Linked DNA regions of Homo sapiens. The protein of the gene in region 1 purifies or fractionates together with the protein of each later gene. This does not show direct contact. Each region holds a gene or a part of one and is shown on either strand. Other genes may lie near its edges.

Evidence for each region.
Region 2: the proteins of KLK15 (region 1) and ABHD3 purify together in Homo sapiens (affinity purification with mass spectrometry; 2 studies listed by BioGRID and IntAct, with this or other methods). This does not show direct contact.
Region 3: the proteins of KLK15 (region 1) and SLC25A20 purify together in Homo sapiens (affinity purification with mass spectrometry; 2 studies listed by BioGRID and IntAct, with this or other methods). This does not show direct contact.
Region 4: the proteins of KLK15 (region 1) and SMG7 purify together in Homo sapiens (affinity purification with mass spectrometry; 3 studies listed by BioGRID and IntAct, with this or other methods). This does not show direct contact.

The regions. Positions count from the first base shown.
Region 1 is NC_000019.10:50,830,386-50,838,251, forward strand, and holds the start of KLK15 (kallikrein-15 isoform 4 preproprotein), read right to left. Parts: upstream 3,190-7,866; 5' UTR 3,142-3,189; intron 1,139-3,141; 5' UTR 1,108-1,138; coding exon 1,065-1,107; intron 909-1,064; exon of another isoform or gene 714-908; intron 180-713; exon of another isoform or gene 145-179; intron 1-144. UniProt on the Homo sapiens protein: Protease whose physiological substrate is not yet known.
Region 2 is NC_000018.10:21,701,629-21,709,400, forward strand, and holds the start of ABHD3 (phospholipase ABHD3), read right to left. Parts: upstream 3,147-7,772; 5' UTR 3,038-3,146; coding exon 2,876-3,037; intron 2,120-2,875; coding exon 1,956-2,119; intron 871-1,955; coding exon 688-870; intron 1-687. UniProt on the Homo sapiens protein: Phospholipase that may play a role in phospholipids remodeling. May selectively cleave myristate (C14)-containing phosphatidylcholines through its predominant phospholipase 1 activity, cleaving preferentially acyl groups in sn1 position.
Region 3 is NC_000003.12:48,895,815-48,903,646, forward strand, and holds the start of SLC25A20 (mitochondrial carnitine/acylcarnitine carrier protein), read right to left. Parts: upstream 3,069-7,832; 5' UTR 2,981-3,068; coding exon 2,876-2,980; intron 1-2,875. UniProt on the Homo sapiens protein: Mediates the electroneutral exchange of acylcarnitines (O-acyl-(R)-carnitine or L-acylcarnitine) of different acyl chain lengths (ranging from O-acetyl-(R)-carnitine to long-chain O-acyl-(R)-carnitines) with free carnitine ((R)-carnitine or L-carnitine) across the mitochondrial inner membrane, via a ping-pong mechanism.
Region 4 is NC_000001.11:183,524,356-183,531,554, reverse strand, and holds part of SMG7 (nonsense-mediated mRNA decay factor SMG7), read right to left. Parts: intron 4,960-7,199; coding exon 4,788-4,959; intron 3,843-4,787; exon of another isoform or gene 3,824-3,842; intron 3,600-3,823; coding exon 3,528-3,599; intron 2,664-3,527; coding exon 2,513-2,663; intron 2,158-2,512; coding exon 2,022-2,157; intron 1-2,021. UniProt on the Homo sapiens protein: Plays a role in nonsense-mediated mRNA decay. Recruits UPF1 to cytoplasmic mRNA decay bodies.

The DNA.
Region 1 (7,866 bases):
CGTGAGACCAGGGGAATGCGGATGTGGTGGACAAGGGGCTTAACAAAGGAAGGGTGAGGTCGTCCTCCGAAGGGCGGAGGGTACGGGCTGAACAGCTGGGCACCGAGGCTGCACCTGGCCAGTCCAAGCCAGAGGAAGGTGGAGGCCCCAGCTGGGCGCAGCAGGCAGGCGCGAGGCAGGTAGGTGAGTGCACAGAGAGAGCCGGAGGGGAGGCTGGAGGCGTGGGGGTCTCAGGGGCCCCCAGGAGTGAGGGTCATTTGTGGCAGAACGTTAATGAAAGTCCACCCCCCAATTTCTCCAGAAGAGAGGCATCAGGTTACAATTAATTTCTTGGTGTGTGGCAGCTGAGTTCAATCTGGAGTTTGCCTGACACCCAAGGTGACCTTGATGTTGTGGCCGTCCCTCTGAGCCACAGCCCCTTCCCTTGTCAAATGAGGTCGGTGGTGCCCACCACACATAGACGTTGTATGTAAGCTCTAAGCACCGTGCCTGGCTTGCACACCTGAAGGGGCACTACCTGGGCCAGGCTTATGCTTCTGCCTCACACACAACCACATTTAATCCCCTCAAAGACCCTGTAAGAGACAGGGAGTGGCAGGTGTGGGACTCAAGCTGGAGTCTGTCTGTGCTGTTGGCCTCTCAGCACTTGTCTAATGCTTGCTATGTATATTACCTCTGTTATGCTATTGAGACCTCACTGTTATTGTCTCAAGTGGGTGCTGTCTTATAGAGAAGGCATTCGAAGCCCAGAGAGGTGAAGCAGTTCCCTCAAGGACACACAGCAAGGAAGCGGTTGCCCCAGGACTCAGCTCAGGTTTGTGTAACCCCAGGACCGTGTTCCTTGTCGTGGGCAGCGAGAGGCCCCAGGCAACATAGCGACTCCAGAGCAGCAGCACCAGCACCTGACGGTAAGGGCTTAGGGACATTGGCACAGGTGGAGGGTGAAGGAAGGATCTTTAGTGGTCTCTGGGTGAGGTAGGGGCTGGCAGATCACTGGGCCCAGACATGCTTGGGAAGGGGGCACCTGCTCCCACAGACCTGGCCCCCTCCTGGGGCCACCTCACCTGTGGATGCCAGCAGGAAGGAGAGAGTGAGGAGAAGCCACATTGTGGAGGAGGGACCAGGGTTCGGCTGCAGTCTGGGGAGGGAGTGAGAGAATCCAGGTGAGGCAGGACCCTTCTGCCTCCACCAGGATCCCTCCAGACACAGACTTATCCCATCCACTGTTAATAAATTTCTTCTGACCACCGGTATCCCCTTCCCCCAACCCCACTCTGCGCTTCCTTCTGGGTCCCCCATCTCTGGAAGGTTTACTCTTCCTCTAGGCACTCGGACAGACCCTGCCCCACCTCCTCCACCTGTCAGCCTCCAGCACCATGCTACCAGCCCCTGGATCTCTCTCCATCATCACCAAGGACCCCTGTCCCAACTTTTTTTTTTTTTTGAGACGGAGTCTCACTCTGTCACCCAGGCTGGAGTGCAGTGGCACAATGTCGGCTCACTGCAAGCTCCACCTCCCAGGTTCACACCATTCTCCCGCCTCAGCCTCCCGAGTAGCTGGGACTACAGGCGCCCACCACCGTGCCCGGCTAATTTTTTGGAAATTTTTTTTTTTTAAGTAGAGACAGGGTTTCACCGTGTTAGCCAGGATGGCCTCAATCTCTTGACTTCATGATCCACCCACCTCGGCCTCCCAAAGTGCTGGGATTACAGGCATGAGCCACCGCGCCTGGTCTATCTCAACCCTCTTATCTGGCCTTTTGGGTCCCCCTCCAGTCCAGTCCCCTCCACCAGCTTGCCCTCCAGCCATGACCCCAAAGGGTCTTTCTACATCTGGAGCTGGCTGTGCCCCTCCCCTGCTCACCACCCTCCATGGATCCTTGGCACCACCAGGATAAAGTCCAGCTCTTCAAATTCACTTTCTTTCTTTTTTTTTCTTTTTTTTTTTTTTTTTTGAGACGGAGTCTGGCTCTGTAGCCCAGGTTGGAGTGGAGTGGCGTGATCTCCGCTCACTGTAACCTCTGCCTTCTGGGTTCAAGAGATTCTCCTGCCTCAGCCTCCCAAGCAATTGGGATTACAGGTGTGTGCCACCACGCCCAGCTAATTTTTGTAATTTTAGTAGAGACGGAGTTTCACCATGTTGGCCAGGCTGGTCTTGAACTCCTGACCTCTAGTGATCCACCCGCCTCAGCCTCCCAAAGTGCTGGGATTACAGGCATGAGTTGCCTGGCTCCAGCCTCACTTTCAAGGACAAAAGTGGCTTCTTCCCTTCCAGCCCCTCTCCCTGGGTCTCCCATGACCTTGTCCTAGACGCAGCCAGTGCTGCCATTTTCCCTCCTGCCATTTCATGCTTAGGCTATTCCTCCCACCGCATATCCAACGCCATTCCCTTCCAGCCCCGCTTCCTCCTTGAGGCCTTCTCTGACCTCCCCTGACCCTCAGTGGTGTCTGCCTCCCCTACGAGACTGGCAGCTCCCCGAGGAGCTGGTCTGACTCCACTCTGGGTCTCCAGTACTGCAGGGCCCGACCCACGGGAGGCCTCAGGAAGCTTTGAGGGTGAATTGAAATCCTTCTTCCCCATATCTTCCAAATTCATCTTTGTCCTCTGACACTCTGCCCCCACCTCTTCTGGGAGGCCCCAACACCTAACAGGTGTCTCCCCTGAATCCCACAGCACCCATTCTGTCTCCATTACAGCGCAGATGCCCCATACTTGCTGAGGTCTGGCCTGTTCTTTTCTCCATCTGGGGGTCTTGAAGATGGGGCTCAGGTCAGGTTCTTTCTGTGACCTCAGCACTGCCCCACCTGGGGCCTGGTACACAGGAGGCCTCCGGGAGGTTGTGCTGAACTGACTTGAACCCGTGATCACTCCTGACCACGTTCTTGGCTCTGATACAAGTACTTCAGGGACGTCCTCCTGATCCACTCCATCCCCCTCCCTCCCCACCACTGCAGCTCCTTCTGGCCATTCCAGGACATTTTCTTGGTTCAGGTTCAATTTGGGGCATTGGTAAAGGACACGTGGATCTACCCATGCCCTTGACACTCAGTTCTCCAAGCGTGGTCAACGTTTCCCCTTGAAACCAGGGCACAGTGAATCTCCCCTTTGCCCCTCCCTCAGTCTTGTCTCAAAGCTCTCACCTCCTCCAGATCCTCCAGCAGCATCTAGGGCAGCTTGGGTGCCAGAAGGGAGCAGGTACCAGGATGCCTGAATTTATAAGCTCCCAGTCCCAGCTGGGTCTGGGGGTGTGGTGGTGTAGGGTGGGGTGGGAGGTGGCTGAGAGTCAGGTTTACAGGCAGAGACGCCTTGGTTGCTGGTGGGGTGGGAGACTTGGCCTAATGAGCATTTATTAGGTTGAAGCTGTTGTCTGAGTCCACAAAGAGGAATTCTCCACCAGGAGCAGTTCCTCAAGGGGGAGGGGACAGGAGGACAAAAACAGAAATTAGGAGGAGATCAAAAGACAGAGTCTGGAATTTGGGGTCTGGAGTGTGGAAACTGGATCCTAAAGTCCCTGTTCTTGGGCTTGGGGCAGAGTTCTGGATCCCGGGTTCTGGATCCGGATCTGGTTCTGGATCTGGGTCTTGGATTCTGGATTTGAGGATCTTGAGTTGGAGATTAATGACCTGCAGTCTGGAATATGGATTTCAAAGTCTGAGTTCTTGGGCTGGGGGTCTGGAATCTGGATCCTGGAGTCGGGCCTTTGAGTGACAGATCGTGAACCTTGATTCTGGATCCCGGGGCATTCGAATCTAGAACCCACAATAGGAGCCTGGAATCTGGTGTTTGGAATCTGGCAATCGAGGCTGGAAACCTTTGCACCTGCTATGAGAAGCCTGGGGCCTAGACTACAAATGGTAGATTTGGGATTTTGAATTGTGGGGTCTGGATTCTTTTTTTTTTTTTTTCTGAGATGAAGTTTCGCTCTTGTCACCCAGGCTGGAGTGCAATAGCGTGATCTCAGATCACTGCAACCTCCACTTCCTGGGCTCAATAGATTCTCCTGCCTCAGCCTCCTGAGTAGCTGGGATTACAGGCGACCACCACCACGCCCAGCTAATTTTTATATTTTTAGTAGAGACAGGGTTTCACCATGTTGGCCAGGCTGGTGTCGAACTCCTCATCTCAAGTGATCCACCTGACTCAGCCTCCTAAAGTGCTGGGATTACAGGCGTGAGACACCATGCCAGGCTTGGGGTCTGGATTCTACAGGGTGGATCTAGCCTCTGAGCTTTCAGGAGTAGACTTTGGAACATACAGTCTGGAGTTTCAAATCTGTTTTTGCATTGAAAACCTGGACTGTGGCTGGGCCCAGTGACTCATGCCTTTGGGAGGCTGAGGTAGGAGGATTGCTGGAACTGAAGGGTTTGAGACCAGCCTGGGCAACACAGCAATACCTCATCTCTATGAAAAATCTAAATAAATAAATAAATAAGTAAATAAATTTTTAAAAGGCTGAATTGAGAGACAGGGACCTGGCTTTCACGATTCTGAGATTGCTAGAATCTTGACTCTAGAGTCTGAATTTAGAGTCTGGGAACCCAGGGTCTCTATTCTGGTCCTGTAGTCTTATTTCTGGGTTCTAGAGCTTGAAATCTGGATTCTGCATCCCAGAGGCTGGAGATGATCACTGAGATGACCCAAGGCTTTGGGTATTTGAGGCTGGCTTCCAATGTCTCAGAACCCCAGAGGGCCCCAAGCAATTATCTAGAGTCTATTTTGGCTTAATTAATGAGGAGGTCCCAAGACAGGAGGGACTGACCTCACTCAGGTCACCCAGTGAAGGATGGGACCTGTTGTAAGCGTGGTCTCTCCCCATGTGTGGAAAGTCATCATCTTTATGGGAAGGATTCAGCCATTCTAGAACTACAGGCCCCTGGAATTTCTAGAATATCAGACTTTCAGATTCTAAAAGCACAGGCCCTAAGACATTCTGGCAGTGGAGGACACTCTGGAAGGTAAGATTTTAGAATAGCCTAGAACCACAGAGCTCCAAACACTCTAGAACCTTCGAACATCGGGCACTCTGGAGTCCCCAGAAACCTCATGCATTCTAGAACGTCGGGTCTCCAGACATTCTACAAGCCCAGACCGGCAGACATAATAGATCCCCAGGTTGGAAGCTATTCTAGAACTCCTATGTCCCTTTGCCTCCCTCCCCACAAATTGATGCTCAAAGTCTGCGGGCCTCACCCTGGGCCACCGCTTCAGCTGAGCAGCCCTGTTTATGGAATGCGGCTGCAGGCCACTCCTCCGTGCCAAGTGCTCTCTTTGTAGGATCTCACTCCGGCTCCCGGCAGCCCTGTGAGGTGTTTATATTAATAACCTTATGGCTTCCTGCTGAATACGGAGGAAACTGAGGCCCAGACAGGAGGCAGCACAAGCAAGGTTCCTGCAGAAGCGAGAGGCCACGCGGGAGAGGAATCAGTGTTCCGACTCCGGAACGCCCGGTGGGCCCTTTCGCCGCCACCCCTGCAGCCGCCTCCCTCTGTTGGGGCGCGGTGGTGACGAGGGAAAGGAGCCGAGCCCCTGGGACTTCCTCGGTGCCAGGTCTGTGCTGAGCGCTTCCCGTCACGATCGCACGTGCTCCTCCTCCTAACCAGCCTAGGCAGGTACTGATGAAGCACCCCTGATACAGACGGGGACACTGAGGGCGCTCCCGCCGCGCCGAACCCAGGCGCGCACCCGGTCTGCGCTCGGCTCCCTGGAGGGCGCGCAGCCAGCGGCTCCCGCAGCCCCGCCCCCACGCGGTGACGTCGGCGCCCCGTCCCCGCCCACTGTGTCTGGCTCAGGCTCGCGCGATCGATGTCCTCCTGGACGTGTCCGCGGACGTCCTTCACCTCCACCGCGGCCTGGGTCCCGCCCACCGCGGCCTGAGTCTCACTTTTGCCCGGCTCCTCCTCCTGAGAACGTTCCCTGGGAGTTTTTCATCAACTCCCGTGGTTCATCCACCAACCACGCAGGTCTCCTCCATCTGACCCTGAACTCCGGCTTGGGCAGCCACCTGCTCCTGGGCGCCCCCTGCACCACTGTCCCTAGGCCCCTCTCACTTACCGAGTCCCAACTCATTGCTCTATTTCCCCAAACCCTCCTTCCCTGTTCTTCCACGTTCTTCATCTCAGGGGCAGCGTCACCGACCACCCAGTTATTCGGCCAGACGCCCTTGGCACTGACCTTGCCCCATCTCTCCCCTTATCCCCTACAGCCCATCGGTCCCCAGCCTTGTCCCTTCGGCCCCTGCCTCTCTCTGCCCCGTCCCCTCCTCTCTGTCCCCTTGGCCTGGCTCCAGCTCAGACGTCCTCCTCTCTCTCTGGACCCTCGCTCCTCCTGTCCGGGAGGACAGCCTCCTGTCGGTCACCACGTGGCCCTAGAGGGTCTCTCTGCACTTGGAGATCACCCCGCCCCTCCCCTGCTCACAGCCTTCCCTTGCAGCTCCCCATCACCCCTGGGCAAGGTCCCGGCTTCTCGGTCTGCAGTTTTAAGCCCTTTGAGATTCCCCAGCAGGAAAAAGCCTCCCCTCAAACCCCCTTCTCAGGGGGCCTGCAGACTGCCCACCTCCGGAGCGGGACTGGACTCGTGGTGCCCGAAGGGCCTCCCCATGAGGTGCTGGCCCTCTTCTAACTTAGTCTCACCACGGCCTCCGTTCCTTCTGGAACCAGACAAGCTGCTGTTTCAGGGCGCTGGGTCTGGATCCAGACAGCATGGGTGCAGATCTCTGTTCCACTACTTACTATTTTGGGAGACCCTGGTAAGAGTTTTTTCTTCTCTGTGTCTCAGTTTCTTATCCTTAAAATCAGAGGATCCCCTCGTAGAGTTTTTCGAGGAGTAACGACTTAGTTTGTGTTAGGAGCTCAGAGCATATAGTAAATTATGACGATTCATTCATTTAACACATGAGCAGACGGGAGTGCGGGGGTCACTGGTGAAGGTCACCCAGGCTGCAGAAGTGGAATCAAGAGAATGGTTCTCGGGGTCCTGGTGCCCCTTGTGAGAAGCATCAGCTCTCTGGGTGTCAGGTGCTCATCTGCGAAGGGGTCTTCCGTTGCGGTGGGGTGGAAATGGGAGGGACCTCACAGGGGTTGGATGAGGTCATACCCATGGAGCAGGTGTGCGAATCATAAAATCAGGCTGAGGCTTGCAAGACCGGTTAACACGGCACGTGATTCAGATGTAGCCGCTGGAGCCAGGTGGCCCGGGTTTGAGTTCTGCCTCTGTCCCATAATACTGTGCACCCTCAGGCAAGTCACTTAGCCTCTCTGTGCCTCAGCTGCCTCAACTATAAAGTGGGGGTAATAATTGCTCCTCCCTCTTCTGTGGGAGTGTTTTGAGGTGTTCATTCTTGAAATCTGTGCCCGGCACTGAGTGAGTGCTGGGCCATTATCAGTCTGTCCTATTACCCTTGGGAACTGAAAGCTGGGGAGGGATGGTTATGTGGGGTCTTTCTCAGATGACACAGTTGGGTAGCAGCAGATTTGGCACTGGAAGAAGCCACTGTGCTTTTTGTTTTGTTTTGTTTTCTGTTTTTTGTTTTTTTTTTTTTTTGAGACGGAGTCTCGCTCTTGTTGTCCAGGCTGGAGTGCAATGGCATGATCTTGGCTCACTGCAACCTCCGCCTCCTGGGTTCAAGCGATTCTCCTGCCTCAGCCTCCTGAGTAGCTGGGATTACAGGCACCCACCAGCACAGCCGGCTAATTTTTGTATTTTTAGTAGAGTTGGGGTTTCACAGTGTTGGCCAGGCTGGTCTTGAACTCCTGACCTCAAGTGATCCACCTGCCTTGGCCTCCCAAAGTGTTAGGATTACAGGCGTGAGCCACCGCGCCCAGCCAGAAGCCACTGTTTTGATCTCCCAGATGTGGTATCTTTTTCTG
Region 2 (7,772 bases), on another chromosome or scaffold:
AAAAAAAAAGCTGAGGCACAAAAAAGCAGTACCTTTTATAATGACTCTAAGATTCTAGAGCTGAACTTGAAACTCAAAGTTGCTAATCACTTGCAAAAAATTAAATTGTACCTGGTGACTGAGCTTAATAATGGTTACTCAGAAAAGCTGTGGCATCAACAACTGGAGACTAGCCAAGTGCACCTGCAAACTCAGGTGGTCAGAAGAGGCAGAGATCACCTTTGATAAATAGGGACAACCTACAAGCTGATTCTGAATATTTTTTGCACTTGGGAGCTGAGCCAGGGCGACAAGATTAGTGAATCCAGGCCCCAGAATGTGGCATGACGGCCACTGTGTACTCTCTCAGGGGTCTGTAATTGCTGTTCTCCCTCCATAACACACTCTCCATTGGGGTGGGGATGGGGGGAAGGGCTCAGTCAATGCTCAGATGATTCTAATTTCATTCATTAACTCAGCCTAAATCTGCAGAGTGTCTACTATGCTAAGTGACATTTCTTGTGAGATGATTCAGTTATGCATCTTCCTGAAAAGAAAGAGGAAAAAAAGAATGCAGAGAAAAATAATAATTTAAGGGACTGCTTTTCTATGCAAGAAGTACTAAGTATTTCTGAAACAAACATGTAGATATATTTGTACTTCATTTGGAATGGATCAAGTGAAAAAAAAGAAATCTTTTACTGGTACCTGTATCCTAATTCTTCACTAAGATGGATCATATGAAGGATATATGACTCCTTGCTTGTTCCCGTGAGGCCAGGCAACAATAAGATAGTAGGTCTGGTGCTGGCATCCATATAACACGTACTGTTATCATTATCAAACCAGTCCAGTGAAATCTGTCCTCCATCTGCAGTTTTAATAAGTTCACTGAAAGGAATAATTCAGAAGACATTACTATTTACATGTTTTAAGTCATGTCTTAATTTTAATTCTAAACACATGACATTATTTGCTCATCAAAAAATAACATTTTTCCAGCATTCACGAACACACACCCATATCTCGATCTACATATCATTTTCTTTCATTAGAAGGATTTTATGAAGATTAGTACCATCAAGTATTTCCAGCAACCTCCGTACAAGGTCGTATATAAAAATGAACTGCTAATTATTAAGATAAATGAATACTTACTCATTACTCCAAAACATCCAGCATTTAACCCTTGTTTGATTGAGGTCACTCAACTAATGCGACAGGGAAGTCTGAGTAAGTAAAATGCTGATCTAATCTCTGACCACTGCTCTAGCTCTTTGGACTCAATAATGCAGTCTCCTTGTATAGTATACTTCAAGATTTTCTTCTGAAATAATTTAAATTATTTCTCACATAGTATTCATGAACTTACAGAATTTTCCCAAACAAACAGTGCAAGTTCCAGGCAACAAAATAAACTCCAGAAGGATAGATGACTAAGGGAAATTAATAACAGGCACCATTTAAATCTGGTTCCTGATAAATCCTGGACCGTATCTTTAACACATCAAGAGCTATTATCATCAAGATCCCATTTGCCTGTCAATAGGAAGTCATTTTACACCAATAAATCGCCCAAAACCCAAATTAAGTGGCATCCTTCTCACCCCACCCCCCCCCCCAGTATCTGCTACTTATCAATGAATGAATGCAGATCATCAAAAGATCTGGGTCTTTCTGACAGATGTATGACAAACTGCGAGACAGTAATCCCCAAACACTTCTCTCATCCTAAAAATAAACCATTTACATCAGGTTGGCGGTTAGGGCGGGGACCAGGAGGCAAATACCTGCAGCTGGGGTATTTTCCTGCAGCTGGGGGTGGAGCCGGGGACGTACCTTCCATTTTCATTCCCTCTTTCTGTTCTATATACTTCCTAAAGCAGATTCTATTAACCAAGAACTGGGAATAAGCAAGCAAGCAAACAAACAACCTGTGATTTTGCAGAAATGACTGAAAACGGAAATTCACTTACTTCCTGTACTGCACCGGGGGCTTCGAAGTGATGAAAGGTCTAAGCAGGGTCTGTCCTCGACCCTCCCAGCACCAGACCGTCGGGTAGTACGTTTCTGTAACCACGGGACAGTGGTCTTGAAGGAAGCGGCTGAAACTCTCACCCCCGGTCACTAACTGGGGTTTCTGAAGGGAAAAGCAGTATCAGAGAAGGGCCCAGAGCAAAGTTTCTGCCAACCGTAAACCAGAAACCGGCAAAGACTTGTCGCTCGCGCGCGCGCTTCCTCCGATTACAACTCTTTCTGGAGGGCTGACGCAAAAAATTCACAGTCACAGAGGACTGAAACGGGGGTTTCGCCAATGCCCCGAGGGGAAGGCGAGAATCGCGATAAGGGAGTTTGTTTGTTTTTAACTCCGCCTCCCGGGTTCAGGGGATTCTCCTGCCTCAGCCTCCCGAGTAGCTGGGATTGCAGGCGTCCGCCACCACGCCCGGCTAATTTTTTGTAATTGTAACGGGGTTTCACCATTTTGGTCAGGCTGGTCTCGAACTCTTGACCTCAGGTGATCCACCCGCCTCGGGCTCCCAAAGTGCTGAGATTACAGGCGTGAGCCACCGTGCCCTGCCCGGAGTCATTTTCAAAAGCGCCACGGCGTTCCCGAGTGCGCCGCCGGCTTCGCGATCGGTGACCGGGCAGCGCCGCAGCGCAGAAGTCAGCCGGGTTCAGGCTGCGCTCCGAGGACCACCCGGCCGGGACCCCCAGGGGGCGGGCGAACGGGCGGGGCCTGTTGGCTTTCCCGCGCGCGCTGGGGGCTGCCGCTCGGGAGCAGCTCGCCGCCTATCCCCGGGGCTGCCGACCGCCCCTGGCCGCGCAGCCTCGCGCCGCGCCTGCTACCCTAGCTCCTGGCCCAGCAGCCCGCGGCCCTGCGCCACCCCCGGCTCACCTTGGCAATGCTGCTCAGGTAGTAGAAGGCATAAGCGACGCTGAAGCCCAGGATAAGGGATAAGCCCACCCCCGAGCCGAAGAACCCCACCCGGACTTGGTGTTCCAGGTAGAGGGAGAGCTCCCGGGACAACATCCGCAGGTCCATGGCCAGGCGCTGCATGGCCCCCGAGCGCGGCGCGCGGGTCCTGCGGCGGGAGGAGAGCCGGCTGGCGAGCGGGCGAGAGCGGGCGAGAGCGGACGCGGCGCCGCTGCCTACTCCCGACCACAGTGTCTCCTGCCTGGCGGAGCGCGGCTTCCGACAACGGGCGGGGCGGAGCGGCCCAGGGAGGCGTAGCCCGAGACTCCAACGCCGCCCGCTCCGCCCCGGCTTCCTGGAGCCGCCCCCACTGCCAGCCACTCAGGAACCTTCCAGAAGCGCGGTTCCAAGACCGGCCACCGGGAGGGCGGGCGGACTGGGTTCTCCCAGCTAGGTCGCAGTGGGCGATGGGGATCCCCAAGGGTGGGCCGAGAGCTGACGGATCGGCAGCGCTGGTTAAGGCCCCGCACCTGCAGCCCCAGTGACCTTGAACGATTCCGCTCTGCGGCGGGTGTCCCTAAACTAGCAGTTTAGGGTGTCAGGTAAGCGTGCCTTGCATTCAAAGATTTGGGGAGTTAATGCCAAAGATATGTTAGCAGGTAAGAATCCCACATCCTCTAGACGTTTGCGTTGGTCCTCAAGACTATGGAAAGAGAAAAAATATTCTATGAGCATTCAACAGTGAGGACATCATACTCGACTCTGAATCACTCTGTGAATCTTTTTAGTTGCTAAGTGTCACTTAAATGAGAAGTGGTCTCTGAAAATAAATGAAAAGGTCAAGAATAGCAACCGGGATTCAATTGTTAAAAGCCTATTTGTGGTTCATTAATGCTTTGAATTTAGAGACTTATGGAAATTCACACCGATTACCTAATGTACAGACAAGAAACCATTTATGAAGTAGGGTCTCCTAGGCTTATTTATGGCAATATGATAAATCAGGATACTTATGGTTATCTGAAATGGTTAGAATTTAATAGCCTATTCCTACTCTTATGAACTCCTTCCTCAGAGAGGTAGGAAGAATGGCAAGACTTAAACAGACGAAAGAAGGGAAAGTGCTGTCTAGATTATGAAAAATGCCAAAGGATTGTAAATTAATGATGTAATTTAGATGGGGACATGAGACGGACCAGAAGTGAGCAATTTATTTGGCTCCGATTTGGTCATTGCAACTTGGTGGTTGGCTGCAGCACCCAAAATAATTCAATTACCTTTACTGAGCCTGTTTTTTTCTTGTTTTAATAATCTGTAGCGTAACAATTTCTACTTTATAGAGTTCCCGAGAGGACAAGATAGTGTATATACTGGACTCCCCGTGAGCAGAAGTAATTTTCACGCTCTGGCTCTCACACCTGAGCACACATAGCAAACGTGAATGCATATGCTGGTTGCCATACTTGAAACTTCATAGCATTCTTCATAACCCCTGCACCAGCCTTCTGCACTACCTACCAATAAATGCATGCGTATTTCAGTTTAAGTTTGTTCTGTTTTGTTTTGTTTTGTTTTTTGAGACAGAGTTTTGCTCTTGTTGCCCAGGCTGGAGTGCAATGGCGAGATCTCGGGTCACTGCAACCTCCACCTCCCGGGTTCACGTGATTCTCCTGCCTCAGCCTCCCGAGTACCTGGGATTACAGGCATGCACAACCACACCCAGCTAATCTTGTATTTTCAGTAGAGACAGGGTTTCACCATGTTGACCAGGCTGGTCTGGAACTCCTGATCCACTCGCCTCGGCCTCCCAAAGTGCTGGTGAGAGGTGACAACGTGCTAGCAGCCCTCGCTCGCTCTCAGCACCTCCTCAGGCCAGGGCATCCACTCTGGCCGCGTTTGAGGAGCCCTTCAGCCCGCTGCTGCACTGTGGGAGCCCCTCTCTGGGCTGGCTGAGGCCGGAGCCAGCTCCCTCTGCTTGCAGGGAGGTGTGGAGAGAGAGGCGTGGGCGGGAACCGGGGCTGCTGTGCCCCGCGATCACGGGCCAGCGGGAGTTCCGGGTGGGTGTGGGCTCGGCGGGCCCTGCACTCTGAGCGCCGGCTGGCACCGCCGGCCCTGGCCAGTGAGGGGCTTAGCACCCAGACCAGCAGCTGTGGAGGGTGCCCCGGGTCCACCAGCAGTGCCAGCCCGCCAGCGCTGCACTGGAATTCTTGCTGGGCCTCAGCTGCCTCCCCACGGGGCAGGGCTCAGGACCTGCAGCCCGCCATGCCTGAGCCGCACCCCCCGCCCCACTGTGGGCTCCTGCGGGGCAAGCCTCCCCCACGAGCGCTGCCCCCTGCTCTGCCAAGCCGGGTTCCATCCACCGCCCAAGGGCTGAGGAGTGTGGGGCTGACGGGGCAGTACTGGTGGGCAGCTGCGGCTCCCCTGTGGGATCCACTAGGTGAAGCCAGCTGGGCTCCTGAGTCTAGTGGGGACTTGGAGAACCTTTATGTCTAGCTAAGGGATTGTAAATACACCAATCAGCACTCAGTGTCTAGCTCAAGGTTTGTAAATGCACCAATCAGCACTCTGTATCTAGCTAATCTGGTGGGGACTTGGAGAATCTTTATGTCTAGCTAAGGGATTGTAAATACACCAGTCAGCACTCTGTGTCTAGCTCAAGGTTTGTAAACACACTAATCAGCACCCTGTGTCTAGCTCAAGGTTTGTAAATGCACCAATCAGTGCTCTGTGGGGACTTGGAGAAATTTTGTGTCTAGCTCAGCGATTGTAAATGTACCAATCACCACCCTGTCAAAACGGACCAGTCAGCTCTCTGTAAAACAGACCAGGCAGCTCTCTGTAAAATGGGCCAATCAGCAGGATGTGGGTGGGGCCGATAAGGGAATAAAAGCAGGCTGCCCGAGCCAGCAGAGGCAACCTACTGGGGTCGCCTTCCACGTTGTGGAAGCTTTGTCCTTTTGCTCTTTGCAGTAAATCTTGCTGCTGCTCATTCTTTGGGTCCACGCTGTCTTTATGAGCTATAACACTCACTGCGAAGGTTTGCAGCTTCCCTCCTGAGCCAGGGAGACCACGAACCCACCAGAAGGAAGAAACTCCAAACACATCCGAAGATCAGAAGGAACCAACTCTGGACGCCCCTCTTTTAAGAACTGTAACACTCACTGCGATGGTCCGCGGCTTCATTCTTGAAGTCAGTGAGACCAAGAACCCACTAATTCTGGACACACGGGGATTACAGGCATGAGCCACTGTGCCTGGCCCAGTTTAAGTTTAAAGTGAAAGTATTATCGAATAAAATGTTTGTCTGAGCTTGGGCATTATAACAAAATACCATAGCCTAGGTGACTTAAACATACATGTATTTCTCACTGTTCTAGAGGCTGGAAGTTTGAGATCAGGGTACCGATGTGGTTGGGTTTTGGTGAGGGCCCTCTTTTGCCTTGCAGATGGCTTCTCAGGAAGCTCTGATGTCTCTTCCTCCTCTTTTAGAGGCACCAATTCCATCATAGGGACCCTGTCCTCATTATCTCGCCTAAACCTAACTACATCCCAAAAGCCGTGCCTCCTAATACCATCACCTTGAGGGGCTAGGGCTCCAACATGTGAAGGTGGAGGCGGGGGATACAAACATTGATGCCTATAATATTTTATGGCCATCATGGTGTGTAGAAAATGTACTGACCTAGGAGTAAAAAACAGCTCTGAACTTATCCACCAAACTTAGGCAAATCATTTACTCTTTGGGGGCCTCAGTTCCTTGTCTGTAAAATGAGATGATTGAGATGGAGGTTGTCCAAGTTTATTTCCTGTTAGAAAAACATTCTCCATCTTTCTTTAGAACTACTATTTTGGCTGGGCATAGTGGCTCACGCCTGTAATCCCAGCACTTTGGGAGGCCGATGCAGTTGAGTCACTTGAGGTCAGGAGTTCGAGACCAGCTTGACCAACATCGTGAAACCGCATCTCTCCTAAAAATACAAGAAAATTAGCTGGGCATGGTGGTGGGTGCTTGTAATCCCAGCTACTCAGGAGGCCGAGACAGGAGAATTGCTTGAACCCGGGAAGGCGGAGATTCCAGTGAGCCAAGAGCATGCCACTGCACTCCAGCCTGGGCGACAGAGGGAAACTGCCTGAAAAAACCCAAAAAACCAAGTAACTGTTATTCCCAATTTATACATGAGGAAATGAGAGCTCAGAAAGTTTAATTCATTCATTCAATCAGTGTCTTCTTGGGTGATTACAGGGCACTGAGGATCCAATCATAATAATACTTAGAGTCTAGTGTGGCAACAGAGGAGTAAGCAGTTACATTACAAAAAGTGTGGTGTCTGGGGATGGTTCCAGATGCAGCAGGTACACAGGGTTCTTAGTAGCAAACAGCAAAAGTCAATTTGGGCTTACCATATGCAGAAAGGAAATTTATTACAATGGTATGTGATAGCTGATGAAACTCCAGAAGGGCCAGAGAACAAGGCTTAGAAGTTGGGAACAATGCCTTTAAAAGTCGTGGCGAGGCCGGGCGCGGTGGCTCACGCCTGTAATCCCAGCACTTTGGGAGGCCGAGGCGGGCGGATCACGAGGTCAGGAGATCGAGACAATCCTGGCTAACACGGTGAAACCCCGTCTCTGCTAAAAATACAAAAAAAATTAGCTGGGTGCAGTGGCGGGTGCCTGTGGTCTCAGCTACTCAGGAGGCTGAGGCAGGAGAATGGCCTGAACCCAGGAGGTGGAGCTTGCAGTGAGCCCAGATAACGCCACTGCACTACGGCCTGGGCGAAAGAGCGAGACTGTCTCAAAAAAAAAAAAAAAAAAAAAGTCGTGGTGCTGGTCCTGTGATGACAATACTCCTGCTCTCTCTCGGCTACACTGCATGGTTTTT
Region 3 (7,832 bases), on another chromosome or scaffold:
CCTAGTTAGTAGAGAGAGAGAAATGGATCAAAGCTTCTGACTAGACCAGGTACAGTGGCTCACACCTATAATCCCAGCACTTCAGGAGGCCAAGGCCGGAGGATCACTTGAGGCCACGAGTTTGAGACCAGCCTGCCCAACATGGAGAAACCCCATCTCTACTAAAAATACAAAAATTAGCCAGGCATGGTGGTGGGCACCTATAATCCCAGCTACTCAGGAGGCTGAGGCAAAAGAATTGCTTGAACTCGGGAGATGGAAGTTGCCATGAGCCAAGATCCTGCCACTGTACTCCAGCCTGGGTGACAGAGGGAGAGTCTTGTCTCAAAAAAAAAAAAAAAAAAAATTCTGACTAATACCTTGTTGTGATTTTTTTTTTCTTTTGAGACAGTGTCTCATTCTGTTGCCCAGAATGGAGTGCAAAGGCTCACTGCAGCCTCAAACTCCTAGGTTCAACCGATCCTCCAGCCTCAGCCGCCTGAGTAGCTGGGATTACAGATGTGCACCACCATGCCCAGCTAATTTTTGTATTTTTTATAGACATGAGGTCTTGCCATGTTGCCAAGGCTGCCTTTTTGTGATTTTATATACACTTCATACCTCATACCTGTCTCAACAGGATATCAGCCATCCAAACCAGCAAGAACATTAAAGTCCTTTGCAGGTGGTTTTTGTTTTGTTTTGTTTTGTTTTGTTTTGTTTTGTTTTGTTTTTGGGAAGGAGTCTCACTCTGTCACCCAGGCTGGAGTGCAATGGCACAATCTCAGCTCACTGCAACCTCCGCCCTGTGGGTTCAAGCGATTCTCCTGCCTCAGCCTCCCAATTAGCTGGGATTACAGGCACCTGCCACCACATGCAGCCAATTTTTTTTTTTTGTATTTTTAGTAGAGATGGGATTTCACCATGTTGGCCAGGCTGGTCTCGAACTCCTGACCTCAGGTGATCCACCTGCCTCAGCCTCCCAAAGTGCTGGGATTAACAGGCATGAGCCCACCGTGACCGGCCTAGGTTGTCTTATTTTATAATATGATCCCCACTTGCAAGCCACACTCACCTTCACTCCTGCCTTCCCATCAGACTGTCTGGGTCTCCCTACTCCTTCAGTCTGAACTCACCCAGCACTTGAATGCCTGTTCTAACGCACCACCTTCCATAGAGCCTTTTCATGACCCACTCTGAAGCGCTGCAGCTTTTGCCTTGTCAGGACACACAGCCCACAGCTCAGTTACACTATCTTGGACTTCTTTTTTTTCTTCTTCTCCTTTTTTTTTTTTTTTTTTAACCTTGGAACTCTGAAAGTACCTTAAGGTCAGGCTTTGATTGGAGCCCACCCAGCTCACTAAGGCCAAAAACACAGCAGTCAGCAATTTGTGGTTTTGGTTTAAGCTAAAAAGAGGCTTTCTGGTTGCTAAATATGCCAGTGAGCATTTCAGTTATTTGCACTTCAGTGCAGAGGTCATCCAGTCCTTCTTGGGAGTGACATCAAGGACAAAGGTGATATGGAGGTAGGAGCAATATTTGTGTGTGTGTGAATATATATATATATATATATATTTTTTTTTTTTTTTTTTTTAAGGGCGGCCCCAGAGGCCTAGAACTAATAAGATATCTGCCTATATGGACCAAGAGCAGGAAGAAAGGCCAGACAATCGTCCCTCAGTAGACAGTGCCGCTTGGAATGACCACAGTCTGGGAAGCACTAACACATGGCATTTACCACCAGCTAAATAAACATTTGATTTCATGTTGCACAATGACCTAGCCAGTCCAGCTACTTTAACCCTGGTCTTCCTATAGAATGACCCCAGTATGAGCTCTACTTCAGGGCAGCTCCTCTCTTGGATGAAAGGCAGCAAAGAGCTTGCTGCCCAAGCTGGCCAAGAGGAAGTGCCCACAAAACTATTTCGCTGTGGAAGAAATCTGACCCAACATCCTAACAAACCCCCTCACATGGGCTTCCAATCTTTTAAAACTCATGTCTGCTCCCCACAGGCCCACCCTGGCAATGACTTGTCAATTTCCTTCACGTCTACGTCTAGAAAAAAAGTGAGAAAACTGGATGCAGCTTCGAGTGCTAAGCCATGGGGGATGGACTTTGGTCCCCAAGCAAAGCATTAATGAAGGTGTTGCAAGGGGAATAGTTGAGATATGATATGAGGAAGACCAGAGAACAATTCCTGATGAACGTCCTCCCTCCCAAGCCTCAGTCTGACCATAGCTTCCTCATCTGGGAGTTGTGAGAATGAGGCTGGCCTTGTGCAAAGCTGATCACCTTGCTTTCCGTGGAAGGGGCTCGGTCACTGAGGTCATCATTGCTTCTCACAGGGATGCCTCTGCCCAGGAGGCTGAGCAGGCCACCGTTGGGTGACAGGCCGAAGAGTGTCAAGTATCTCCCCGGGCCGGGAAAGGTGCGAAAGAGATGGGTACTCTTGCCCCAGGGGAATGTATCAAAGGACACCTCCAGAACAACCGTACCGCTCTGTCTTTAGTTGTCTTCCTGGGGCAGGCTTTACAGGGGACCTGTTTCAACCTTAACGATAATATTAGTGTTGGCTGAAACCAAAACTATGGAGAGACGTTTATTCCTTCCCATCCCTAAAGAAGTGGCGCAGGGTCAGAAGAGACTGCGGGACAGGGAACTTTACATCAGAGCTCTTGACAGGCAGTTAGAGGCTGCTCACTTTGCGCCGCCGCCTGGCTCTTTGGGGCGCAAGGTACAGCTTCCTGCCCACCCCTGAAAGAGAGATTCCCTAGACTTCTCACGGAAGCTCACACATGCCCCTCTTCTGCCCAGCGTCCGCGCCTCGCGGGGGACCATGCTTTCCGCGCCCCGCCCGGGCCTCCTCCCCAAAGCCTGCGACCCAGCCTCCCGCACCTTGACCGTGTCCAGAGGGTGACCGACGAACACCAGGCACACGCCGCCAAAGCCGCCGGCCAGCAGGTTCTTGAGCGGGCTGATGGGTTTTGGCTGGTCGGCCATGGTCAGTCCGTCTGTCACTCCGTCTGTCAGTTCTCGGGCCGTCCTGGCTTCTCAGCCCCAGCTGCAGTGCCGGCGCCGCCGACCTTTCACCCACTTTTGGGTGGGCGGGGCACGAGCCCGGGGCAGGTCGGGAGGAGGGCCCAGTTGGCACGGTAGGGCTTCCGCCCGGGGCTGCTTCCGGCCTCGGCCCCGCTTCGATGGGCGTGGCAGAGCGCAAAGCCGCATGGGCGGGGTTTGGGAGTGTGGGCCAGCGGGCCTATTCCTCCAGGAAGCCTTCCCAGACTTCCATGTTTCCTCTGAGCTCCCATTCATCCACTCACTCCAGAGAGATCAATTGCGCCCTGCCATATGCCAGGCGTCCTTCTAGGTGCTGGAGGCACCCCTGGTAGTACAACACACAGGTCCCTGTCCTCCTGGAATTTACAGACCATAACAAAGATAAATAACTAAAAAATGCATAGTGTATCAAGTAGTAATAAGTACTACGGAGAAAAATCCAGGAAGAGAGTTAGAGGGTGTGTGGGACAAGTGATTTGCAATTTTAGTTCGTTGAATAAGGGAGGGTTTAACTGAAAAGGTGACAGGATTCAAGACCTGAGAAGATGAGAGAGGGAGTTCTGTTCACACATAACAGGGTCAAGGGTGAGGAACCTTCCACCCAGAAGAAAAAGAAAATGCAAAAGCCTTGAGATGGTCTGTGCCTGACATGTTTGAGAAACCACAGGAAGAGGGAGGGTAGTAGCTGATGAGGCGACAGAGGTTTTGGAGGCACTAGAAGACAGGTTTGGGCCTGGTGTTATGGCTCATGTCTGTAATCCCAGCTCTTTGGGAGGCCAAGGCGAGAGGATTGCTTAAACCCAGGAGTTTGAGACCAGCCTGACTTATATAGCGAGACTCTTGTCTCTAAAAAAAAAAAGTTAGGCCGGGCCCAGTGGCTCACACCTGTAATCCCAGCACTTTGGGAGGCCAAGGCAGGCATATCAACTGAGGTCAGGAGTTTGAGACCAGCCTGACCAACATGGAGAAACCCCGTCTCTACTAAAAATACAAAATTAGCGGGGCATGGTGGCGCATGCCTGTAATCCCAGCTACTTGGGAGGCTGAAGCAGGAGAATCACTTGAACTTGGGAGGCAGAGATTGCGGTGAGCCCAGATCGTGCCATTGCACTCCAGCCTGGGCAAAAAGAGCGAAACACTGTCTCTACAAAAAAAAAAAAAAAAAAAAAAAAAAAAAGTTAAAGGCCCGACGCAGTGGCTCATGCCTATAATCCCAGCACTTTGGAAGGCCAAGGCAGGTGGATCACCTGAGGTCAGGAGTTCAAGACCAGCCTGGCCAACATGGTCAAACCCCGTCTCTACTAAAAATACAAAAACTTGCCAGCCGTAATGGCAGACGCCTATGCCTGTGATCCCAGCTACTCGAGAGTCTAAGGCAGGAGAATCGCTTGAGCCCAGGAGGCGGAGCTTGCAGTGAACCGAGATCTTGCCACTGTCTCTCCTCTGAAGGACGTAGAAGTCATTGCAGGGTACTGAGTGGGGAGCGACATAGTCTGACATCGTTATCAGGATCCCCCTTTGATTGCTGGGTGAAAATAGACTCCAGGGGGCAAGAAGAAACAAGGAGCCTTAAGGAGGCTAAAAGCCATGGCCAGAGATGTTGACTTGCGCCAGGGCATAACAGAGGAGGTAGTAAGAAGTGGTCAGATTCGGCCGGGCGTGGTGGCTCACGCCTGTAATCCCAGCACTTTGGGAGGCCGAGGCGGGTGGATCTCAAGGTCAGGAAATCGAGACCATCCTGGCTAACATGGTGAAACCCCGTCTCTACTAAAAATACAAACAAAAAAATTAGCCGGGCATCATGGCGGGCATCGTGGCGGGCATCTGTAGTTCCAGCTACTCGGGAGGCTGAGGCAGGAGAATGGCGTGAACCTGGGAGGCGGAGGTTGCAGTGAGCTGAGATCGTGCCACTGCACTCCAGCCTGGGTGACTGAGCAAGACTCCGTCTCAAAAAAAAAAAAAAAAAAAAAAAAGAGGTGGCCAGATTCTGGATATAGTCTAAAGAAAAAAAAATTTTAAGTTGTCAATTAATAGGATATAAAGCAGCTAGGCACAGTGGTTCACGCCTGTAATCCCAGCACTTTGGGAGACCGAGGCATACAGATCATGAGGTCAGGAGATCGAGACCATCCTGGGTAACACAGTGAAACCCCTTCTCTACTAAAAACACAAAAAATTAGCCAGGTGTGATGGCACAGTGCTTGCAGTCCCACCTACTCAGGAGGCTAAGGCAGGAGAATCGCGTGAACCCGGGAGGTGGATTTTGCAGTTAGCCAAGATCACGCCACTGCACTCCAGCCTGGCAACAGAGTGAGACTCTTTCTCAAAAAAAAATAAAATAAATTAAAATAAATAAATAAATAAAAAGGATATAAAAAGGATATAAAGGGTGTCAAAGAAGATTTAAGATTATGGGGCCGGGGCTGGGCGCAGTGGTTCACGCCTGTAATCCCAGCACTTTGGGAGGCCGAGGTGGGCGGATCATGAGGTCAGGAGATCGAGACTATCCTGGCTAACACGGTGAAACCCCATCTCTACTAAAAATACAAAAACTTAGCCGGGCGTGGTGGCAGTAGCCTGTAGTCCCAGCTATTCAGGAGGCTGAGGCAGGAGAATGGCAAGAACCCAGGAGGTGGAGCTTGTAGGGAGCCGAGATCGCGCCACTGCACTCCAGCCTGGGCAACAGAGTGAGACTCCGTCTCAAAAAAAAAAAAAAAAGAAAAGAAAAAAAAAGAATTATGGGCCGGGCACAGTGGCTCACACCTGTAATCCCAACATTTTGGGAAGCCCAGGCAGGCGGATCATGAGGTCAAAGTTCGAGACCAGCCTGGCCACCATGGTGAAATGCTCTCTCTACTAAAAATACAAAAATTAGCTAGGCGTGCTGGCATGTACCTATAATCCCAACTGCTCAGGAGGCTGAGGCAGGAGAATCGTTTGAACCCAGGAGGCAGAAGTTGCAGTGAGCCGAGACCACGCCATTGCACTCCACCCTGGGTGACAGAGCAAAACTCCGTCTCAAAAAAAAAAAAACCACAAAAAAACAACTATATGCATTGGAGCAAATTTTTAGAAAGGGATTCATAAATGCCTTCACACAGGAAAAAATAGGCAATCAAGCATTCTCATTCGAATGAGGGGCCAGGCGCAGTGGCTCACACCTGTAATCCCAGCACTTTGGGAGGCCAAGGTGAGTGGATCGTGAGGTCGGGAGATCAAGACCATCCTGGCCAACATAATGAAACCCCATCTCTACTAAAAATACAAAAATTAGCTGGGCATGGTGGCATGTGCCTGTAATCCCAATACTAGGGAGGCTGAGGCAACAGAATCACTTGAACCAGGGAGTGGGAGGTGGCAGTGAGCTGAGATGGCACCACTGCACTCCAGCCTGGCCACAGAGCAAGACTCTGTCTCAATAATCATCATCATCATCATCAGGGCCAGGCACCATGGCTCATGCCTATAATCCCAGAAATTTGTGAGGTCGAGAGAGGCAGATCATTTGAGGTCGGGAGTTCAAGACCAGCCTGACCAACATGGTGAAACCCCATCTCTACTAAAAATACAAAAAAAATTATCTGGTGTGGTCGTGGGTGCCTGTAATCTTGGCTACAAGGGAGACTGAGGCAGGAGAATTGCTTGAACCCAGGAGGCAGAAATTGCAGTGAGCAGGGATCGCTGACAGAGTGAGACTCTGTCTCAAAAAGAAAAAAAGAATCAGAACACATTATATATATATACTTTTTTTTTTTGAGGCGGAGTCTTGCTCTGTGGCCCAGGCTGGAATGCAATGGTGTGATATTGGTTCACTGCAACCTCCACCTCCAGGGTACAAGCGATTCTCTTGCCTCAGCCTCATGAGTAGCTGGGATTACAGGCACCCGCCACCACACCTGGCTGATTTTTGTATTTTTAGTAGAGACAGGGTTGGCCAGGTGCAGTGGCTCACATCTGTAATCCCAGCACTTTGGGAGGCTGAGGCGGGTGGATCACCTGAGGTCAGGCGTTCAAGACCAGCCTGGCCATCATGGTGAAACCCCATCTCTGTTAAAAATACAAAAATTAGCTGAGCGTGGTGGTAGGCACCTGTTATCTTAGCTACTCGGGAGGCTGAGGCAGGAGAATTTCTACAACCCGGGAGGTGGAGGTTGCAGTGAGCCAAGATCGTGCCATTGCACTCCAGCCCAGGCAACAACATCAAGACTCCATCTCTGAAAAAAAAAAAAAAAGATATAAAAATTAGTCAGGTGTGATGGCAGGCACCTGTAGTCCCAGCTACTTGGGAGGTGAGGTATGAGAATTGCTTGAACCCAGGAGGCAGAGGTTGCAGTGGGCCAAGATCTTGCCACTGTACTCCCGCCTGGGTGACAGAGAGAGATTCTGTCTCAAAAAAAAAAAAAAAAAATTGATCCTCATACTCAGCCAAACTAGCATCCAAGCAGGAGGATGAAACAGTATCACTCAACTATGCAAACAGACACGTGGGAAGTTGGCTCATGCCTGTAATCCCAGCACTTTGGGAGGCCAAGGTGGGCGGATCACAAGGTCAGGAGATCGAGAACATCCTGGCTAACATGGTGAAACCCCGTCTCTACTAAAAATACAAAAACAAAATTAGCCGGGCATGGTGGTGGGCGTCTGTAGTCTCAGCTACTCGGGAGGCTGAGGTGGGAGAATGGTGTGAACCCGGGAGGCGGAGCTTGCAGTGAGCCCAGATCGTGCCACTGCACTCCAGCCTGGGGGACAGAGCAAGACTCCGTCTCAAAAACAAAACAAAACAAAACAAAAAAAG
Region 4 (7,199 bases), on another chromosome or scaffold:
GGTACATAGCGGGTACTTAATAAACACTTAGTGAATGAACAACCTATCCATTCAGAAATAAGGTTGAAGTTATTCAGTTGTAATTTCCTAAAATTTAGATTATATTGTAGAGAGTCTTCCAAGGAATAAAGTCAGATTAGAACTGATAAGATTTTTGCTACTCAAACTTTCAACTACAGTTGAGAAATATACTGAAATAAATACCATTAACAAACAGCCCACATTTAACTTACAGAAAATGTATTACATCTCAATTCCCAGATCCCAGGCCTTAAATCCCTTAGTGGACCTCAACTTGGTAAACATTTCTGCTTAGTAGCTAAAGGTTGTTAGAAACACTGAAGTATACATGTTGATGATACTAATTATCTACATATGCTTTAGAAATACTTTGGAAATTTTACTCCACTATGTTAAAATTTCACTCCAGCAATGTTCTAGTTCAACACTGGGTAAGCTTTCAAATAGATCTGCCTCATACTATGTTTTATGTTTAACTTTAGAGTGCTGGAATGATACTTCAAAGTATATTTTAGAAACTGCCCACCCACACTTACCAGAACTTCACATACAGAAATATATATGTGAAGAGAGTGTTAGTGTTTGAGGTTGAACCAAATGCAAAACTTACTAGGTTTTTAGACTAGAATAACTTAGTTAGTGAAGATCTCATTAAGGTAGGGACCACCCACCACCACCAATTTAGAGAGTATTTCACAGAACCAGAGCTGGAAGCAATCTCAAGAAGTTTTCTAGTCCAATCCCCTATTTAGTAGGACTGCACTTAAATAATCCAAGAAAGATGGCTGTCAATCTGACTGTTAAGCTCTCCAAAATGGAGAATCCACAACATCCCACGGTCAGCCCCCTATAGATTTCAACTTAAAATTTAAGATTTTAGTTTTGACTTCAGGAAAGATACAGGTATGTTCTTTTCAAATAATCCTTCACATGTCTGAATACTTACTATGAAAACTATTTAGACTTGTTTGTTCTTTTCCAGGCTGAACAGCCTAGGACATGACAAAGTTAGCTGTTCCTTTCACACACCCAACCTTATACATCATATGTCACAGGCTAAGTATATTTTAAAACAAAACAAACTATTGCTATTTATAATTATCTATTCTAATATCTTGCACATAGAAAGTATCAACCAAAAAGCGATTACCTGTAAAAACTATTTCGCATTGACTATTTTTGGCTAAGTGACACCTTAACTGTCCAAGTTCTACAATCTCTTAAAATGCCTGACTTATAAAGAACTTACAGAAATACTATGAAGCAGTTATACACAATTACCCAAGTATATAGATACCTAGAAATAACCAAGAAATATAAAATGTTCTTTGAAATTGTCATTTACTGTTTAACACAGTGCCTAAAACAATGACCGATGAGTAGTCAAATATTTATTTGAATACATGAACTGAAAAAAAGTTAATACTTTTGACTTTCTCCTTATTTTATGCATTATACATTTAAACTGCTAATATCTTAACATACTAATAAAAGATCATTTTCACATATATAAATAGAATGAAGGTTAATGTTATCTCTTCAAATTAGTAAAATATATCCCTGTTAAATGAAACTCTCATTCCTTTCATTCAAACTACCACAATCCTGATGAATGCAAGCACAATAAAAATAATGAACTTGGTTTGGAGAATGCCAATATCTATAAAGCAGGTAACATAATCATATCTAAGAATACACAAACCATCAAAAGTAGTAGTAGTTTCAAAACTGAGGAGTTATTTATTTTTTTCCACTTTGATAATTTTTGTCAAATGGCAACTACTCAAGTGAAAACACTGCTATATTATATTTGTTTATACAGACTGTACCTCAGTTTAAATTGAAGGGATGATAAATGCAAAGATTTCACATACTTCGAATATAATTTTTACCAATAGTTCACACAGTTAAGTAACTACAAAAACTGGGAGTCAGTTTCCTCCAAATGTTATGCTTCCTGATTTAGACAAGACAAAAATTCTCTATTTCTGAAATCTAACCTTAAACTGTTCTTCCAATTTCTCTCGAAGAGGGCTCAACTTTTCCAAGCTCTTACTCAGGTACACATGACCGTGGAATTTAATAAAGGCCTTGATGAAGTCAGAAACACCCCACTTGGTTTTCACCTCATCTCGGCTGAAATGAAAGAAAAAAATTCCATGAATCATAAGCAGCAAATTGGCTACAACTGTTTAAGGAGGCACTGGCTTGCTAAATACTTGATACACAAAAGAGCTGTATTTGACTGATTTTTCAACTGCAACACACTCAAGATGAGTCAGTATTAACAGCCTGTGTACTCTTTTACTGGGACTGAATCAGATATTGATTGGATGAAATTCAGTGACTATACACAAATTATGAAAAATCTATATGTTTAGAAATAAGAGAAGCATAGGCCGTTATTTTCTGTAAACCAAATTATGAGGAATTAAGGCTCCAGGTTACAAAGTCCTCTTGGAAAGAGAAAAAAAAAACCAAACAACCCTACCTTTCCAGTGCTTTAGAAAGTGCTTTTTGCAGATTAGTGGAGGCAGCTGGGAAAGGGAACTTCACAGCAATGCTTCTGCAGTAGTAGAAAATTGTGGTCAGATGGTCTCCTTTGGAAGAAGCTAAGATAGCCAACTGATTATAAGGCTGACCTACAGGAGAAAGTTAAGATTCTGGAGTAACCCCAAGAGTGACAAAGTCTTGCTATAAGAATACAAATGATCAGTGTTTAAATACTCAAACAATGGGGAGTATTTTTATAAGGTAAATATGACTGCCTCATTGCAAACCAGCGTAAGGTCCAACAGCACACTTCAGCGACAGTACACACTATCATATACAGGTTAAACAGTCAATATTAGGGTAGAGAGCGGCTTCAGCAAGGGCTAGATTATAAATAATTTCAGTTTTGTAGGCCAAAGGGTCTCTATCACAACCACTCAACTCTGCCACTGTAGTGTGAAAGCAGCCATAAACAAATATGAAACAAGTAGTGTGGTCAGACTATCATCCCTGCTTTAGACTCTTTCTAGAATCTAAAGGAATTTCAACGTCTTAGTAAGAATGATTTAAATAATTAAATATCTGCTGTAATTTCTGTAACTCAAGAACTACTGCTAATGCCTAGTTTGGGGCCATTAAAAGATTATCTTTTAGGTAATAGATTGTTTTTCTGGGGGGAGGGGAATGGTGGTATCTAAAGAAATAATTATTCTATAAGCAATTAAGGAAGCCAGAGTTGTAGAAACAATATCAGATTACATTAAGAGATTCTATCTATATTGCTTTACTGACAATAATAAATAATAAAATAAAATAAATAATAAAAGTCATCTTACTTGTAAAAAAAATTCATTTTAGTTTACATGGAATGTACAGTTAAATGGAAAAACATGACAATAACAAAACTCATTTATTGCTTTCATAAAACTTCAAAGGTGAGCCCTGAGTTATCTGCCACATTGTTATAAAGAACAAAGTGTCACGGTCAATCTCAGGTTGACAGGTCCACTCACCATTGGAGGGGACAAGCTGAGCTGCATGCCTATAGTAGGACTCTGCCTGGCTGGTCTGGTTTCTGTATCGAGCTAAGAAGAAGAAAATTAGTTTTAAAAAACCCAAAAAACAAACAGTAGGGTAGTATTTCCAAAACAGCTATAGTTTTAAGTTCTAAAGATAATAAAGACATTAAAGTTAATTTAAAATTAAAGACAAAATACTTTAAAACAAATTAACTATAGGATTATGTGTGAAGTGTCCATCAGCCTTCCTTATTTGGGACATTCAGCATGTAACCAATTTTAAAGCTTACCTAGACCCCATTTTCAGGTCCTCCAGTGTCATGCATCACCAGCTCCCACTATGGACTATGCTGGTGACCTGGAGCCGGCCCACAAGAAGGGGTGAGTTATATGGCACTTAAAAACAAAACAAAACAAAATACACTATACAATATGATCTGAAAATTATGTATTTTTCAATATTTTATAAAGTGATTTTGAAAAATGTCTCATTCCTATTGCAATATTAAATATGTGTGTGCAAAGATTATATTTAAAGCAAAACAACCTAAACACAGTATCAATGAATCTCCCTGCCAAACTCACTGCTTACTCTGATGTGACCTCCTCATGGAACCGCTGACTTACAATATTAAGAAATCTAAAATTTCAAACTTAAAAGCAGTAATGTTCTCCATTCTTTGTTATTTGAGGACAAGCAAAACATAATCCTATAGTTAATTTGTTTTACAACCTTTCTAGGTCACCTTAAAGGAATGAACAAGAATAAATAAGTTATATAATATTCCCAGATAAAATGCAAATAATAGAAATACAAATTAAACTTTAAAAAGGAAGCAAAATTAAAAATCAACTTTTAGTCCATTGGTAAGAAAGAAAGAAGGCAATTTCGCTTCAGGAGTAATTTATAAACCTCATTTATTCCAGAAGAGTACATTTAATTTAGAAATTATGGCACCACTTTGAAAAATTAAGCTTTGATTATGTTTTTGCTGTTTATTATTTGCCTATATAAATTACATAAAGTTGGAATAAAATTTAAATCTTAATATGAAAGTTACTTTCTTCACGATGCTCTGCCAATCCCAAAAATATTGAGAAATTTTAAGTTCCTTAGAATACATTTTATAGTTTCTTCTTATGACAATCTAAATTGTGTGTGTATGCTCCGCTTAAAGGAAAACAGTTTCTTTCTATGACTATTCCAAAGAAAAGGAGGAACATATTATCAATTCCTTCACAGCAAAGGCTCACCAATGTCTCCAAGGTGGACGAGGCAGTGCTGGCAGATATAGGAACAGGAGCTAGACTGTGGCTTCACTATGGCGCTGGTATGCGTCTGTTTATTGCTGATAATTCCCAATTGGGAAGACTTCACACGGCATGGTAAATCTACATTAAATACTGTACACAGTTCTTGTAATAACTAAAAGAAAAACAAACAAAATTTAGTAGTAAGTCACAAGTGCTCTAAAAGTAAAGTTTATAAACTGTAAGATGTGTACCTAGTACCACATACTGCTGAAATCTGAACAAAAACTGCATGAAAATTATATGGTAATCTTTCGGGCCTGGCACAGGGGCTCACGCCTATAATCCCAGCACTTTAGGAGGCCAAGGCGGGCGGATCACTTGAGCTCAGGAGTTTGAGACCAGCCTGGCCAACATGATGAAACCCCGTCTCTACTAAAAATACAAAAAAAAAATCAGCCGGGAGTGGTGGTGAGCACCTGTAGTCTCAGCTACAAGGGAGGCTGAGGCACAAGAATCGCTTGAACCCAGGAGGCGGAGGTTGCAGTGAGCCGAGATCACGCCACTGCACTCCAGCCTGGGTGAGAGAGCAAGACTGTCTCCAAAAAAAAAAATATATATATATATATATATTATACGTTAATCTTTCACAGGATAACTAGTATCATTCATTATAAATCATACCTTTTGAATTCTCAAGTATTACAGCAATCTAGGATGTGCATACAGCAGCATTTTAAAAAAAGATTATTTAACTGGATAGGATTTTCAGACACGATTTTCAGACACATTAAGCAAGCAAAGAAAGCTACTACTCTCAGAAACCCAAAAATTATTAAATATTGGTTACAAATTTGACTTAAATGTAAGCCAAGGTATTTGTCAGACTTTAGGTATTTCTTGCAATTTATTTTCTTAAGCTGTATGCCAATTCACATGTCTTTGCATATACAACGAATCTCACCGTAGTGTACACCTTTACTGTATCACCCATTCCTACCTCCTCTCTTCTCTGTTCTTAAAGTATGAGGGGCTCTTCTTCCTAGTCAGAGCTAACTCTTCTGCCTATGTGTGCCTATTGCTACATTCTTTTCTGGTTCCTGTCTGTCTCCCACCTCTCCATTCTTTCATCTACTGTCAACTTTTCATGCTTCTTTCCTATGGCCTACACACCACGTCTCCCACAGAAAAAAACAAGAACAAAAAACAAAACAGAGCTAAAACACTCTCCTCTTGACTTTATAGCAACCTTTTAATGTCTCTCCTTCTTCTCAACCAAATGCCTTCAAAGGAGTCCACACTTTTCATATCTGCTTTCTCAATTTCTATTTACTCCTTAATCCATTATCATCTGGCTTCCACACAACCCCTCTCCCTCCTCTCACCCAACCATCCATTACCACTCTACTGAAACTACTATCAGACAATTGGTTACCTAATAGCCAAATACAACGGATATTTTTCAGACATCATCTTATTGGACCTCTTTGCTGCACTTAAAACATCTGATCTTATGGTTGATTACTGAGCTGTTCTAGTTCTCTGTCATCTCTCCAATCACTCCTTTTCAGTCTCCTTCATAGAAAGGCTTTTCTCCTCTCACTTTGCTTGCCAAGGGCTTATTTCTTGCCCCGCACACAGTTCTTCACACTGTGAAGAATATTTACTTCACAGTTATTCAAATATTTACTTACAAATATCGTCATTCAAATATTATTATATTCATCCAAGTATGTGCTAGTATATCAGACACCCAGTAAACAAGAAAGATACAAAGACAAGTAAGAAAATATGTTTCCTTCATGAGCTTGTAGCTAAATGGGCAAGTCAGGTACAAAAAGAGAAGTAGAGGGGAGAGAGGGAGGGAGAGGGAAAAGGGAAAGGAGAGAAGGACAGACAACATGACACACAATATAACCAACAGAATATTCTACATTTATAACGTAACTTATTTCCCTAGGTTATCTGATAAATTTGTCTCACTTTATCCTTGTGATAAACTAGTAGCAACACAGTATACATAGATATAAAGCTCAATTTTTTTCAGATGAGGATGTGAAGGCAGAAATAATCAAGCGACTGGACTAAGGTTATAGAATTAGAAATATTTTGATTCTATCACCACTCTTTCTAGCATGTACAGAATTCAAAATACAAAATAAGACACCCTAAGGGCTCAACTCAGAAGGATCTGAATCATGCCACCTTTTTCCTAAGATAAAAATCACCTCCATAACTAAATATAAATTCTGCGCACCCTTTCTCACTGGGCATGGAAATTATTTACTCCATCTTTACTTGTACATTTGTAATGGGCAAGAAATTCACTAACATAAAATTGGGTAAACAAGGCCAGGCATGGTAGCTCATGCCTGTAATCCCAACACTTTGGGAGGTCAAGGCGGAAGGATCACT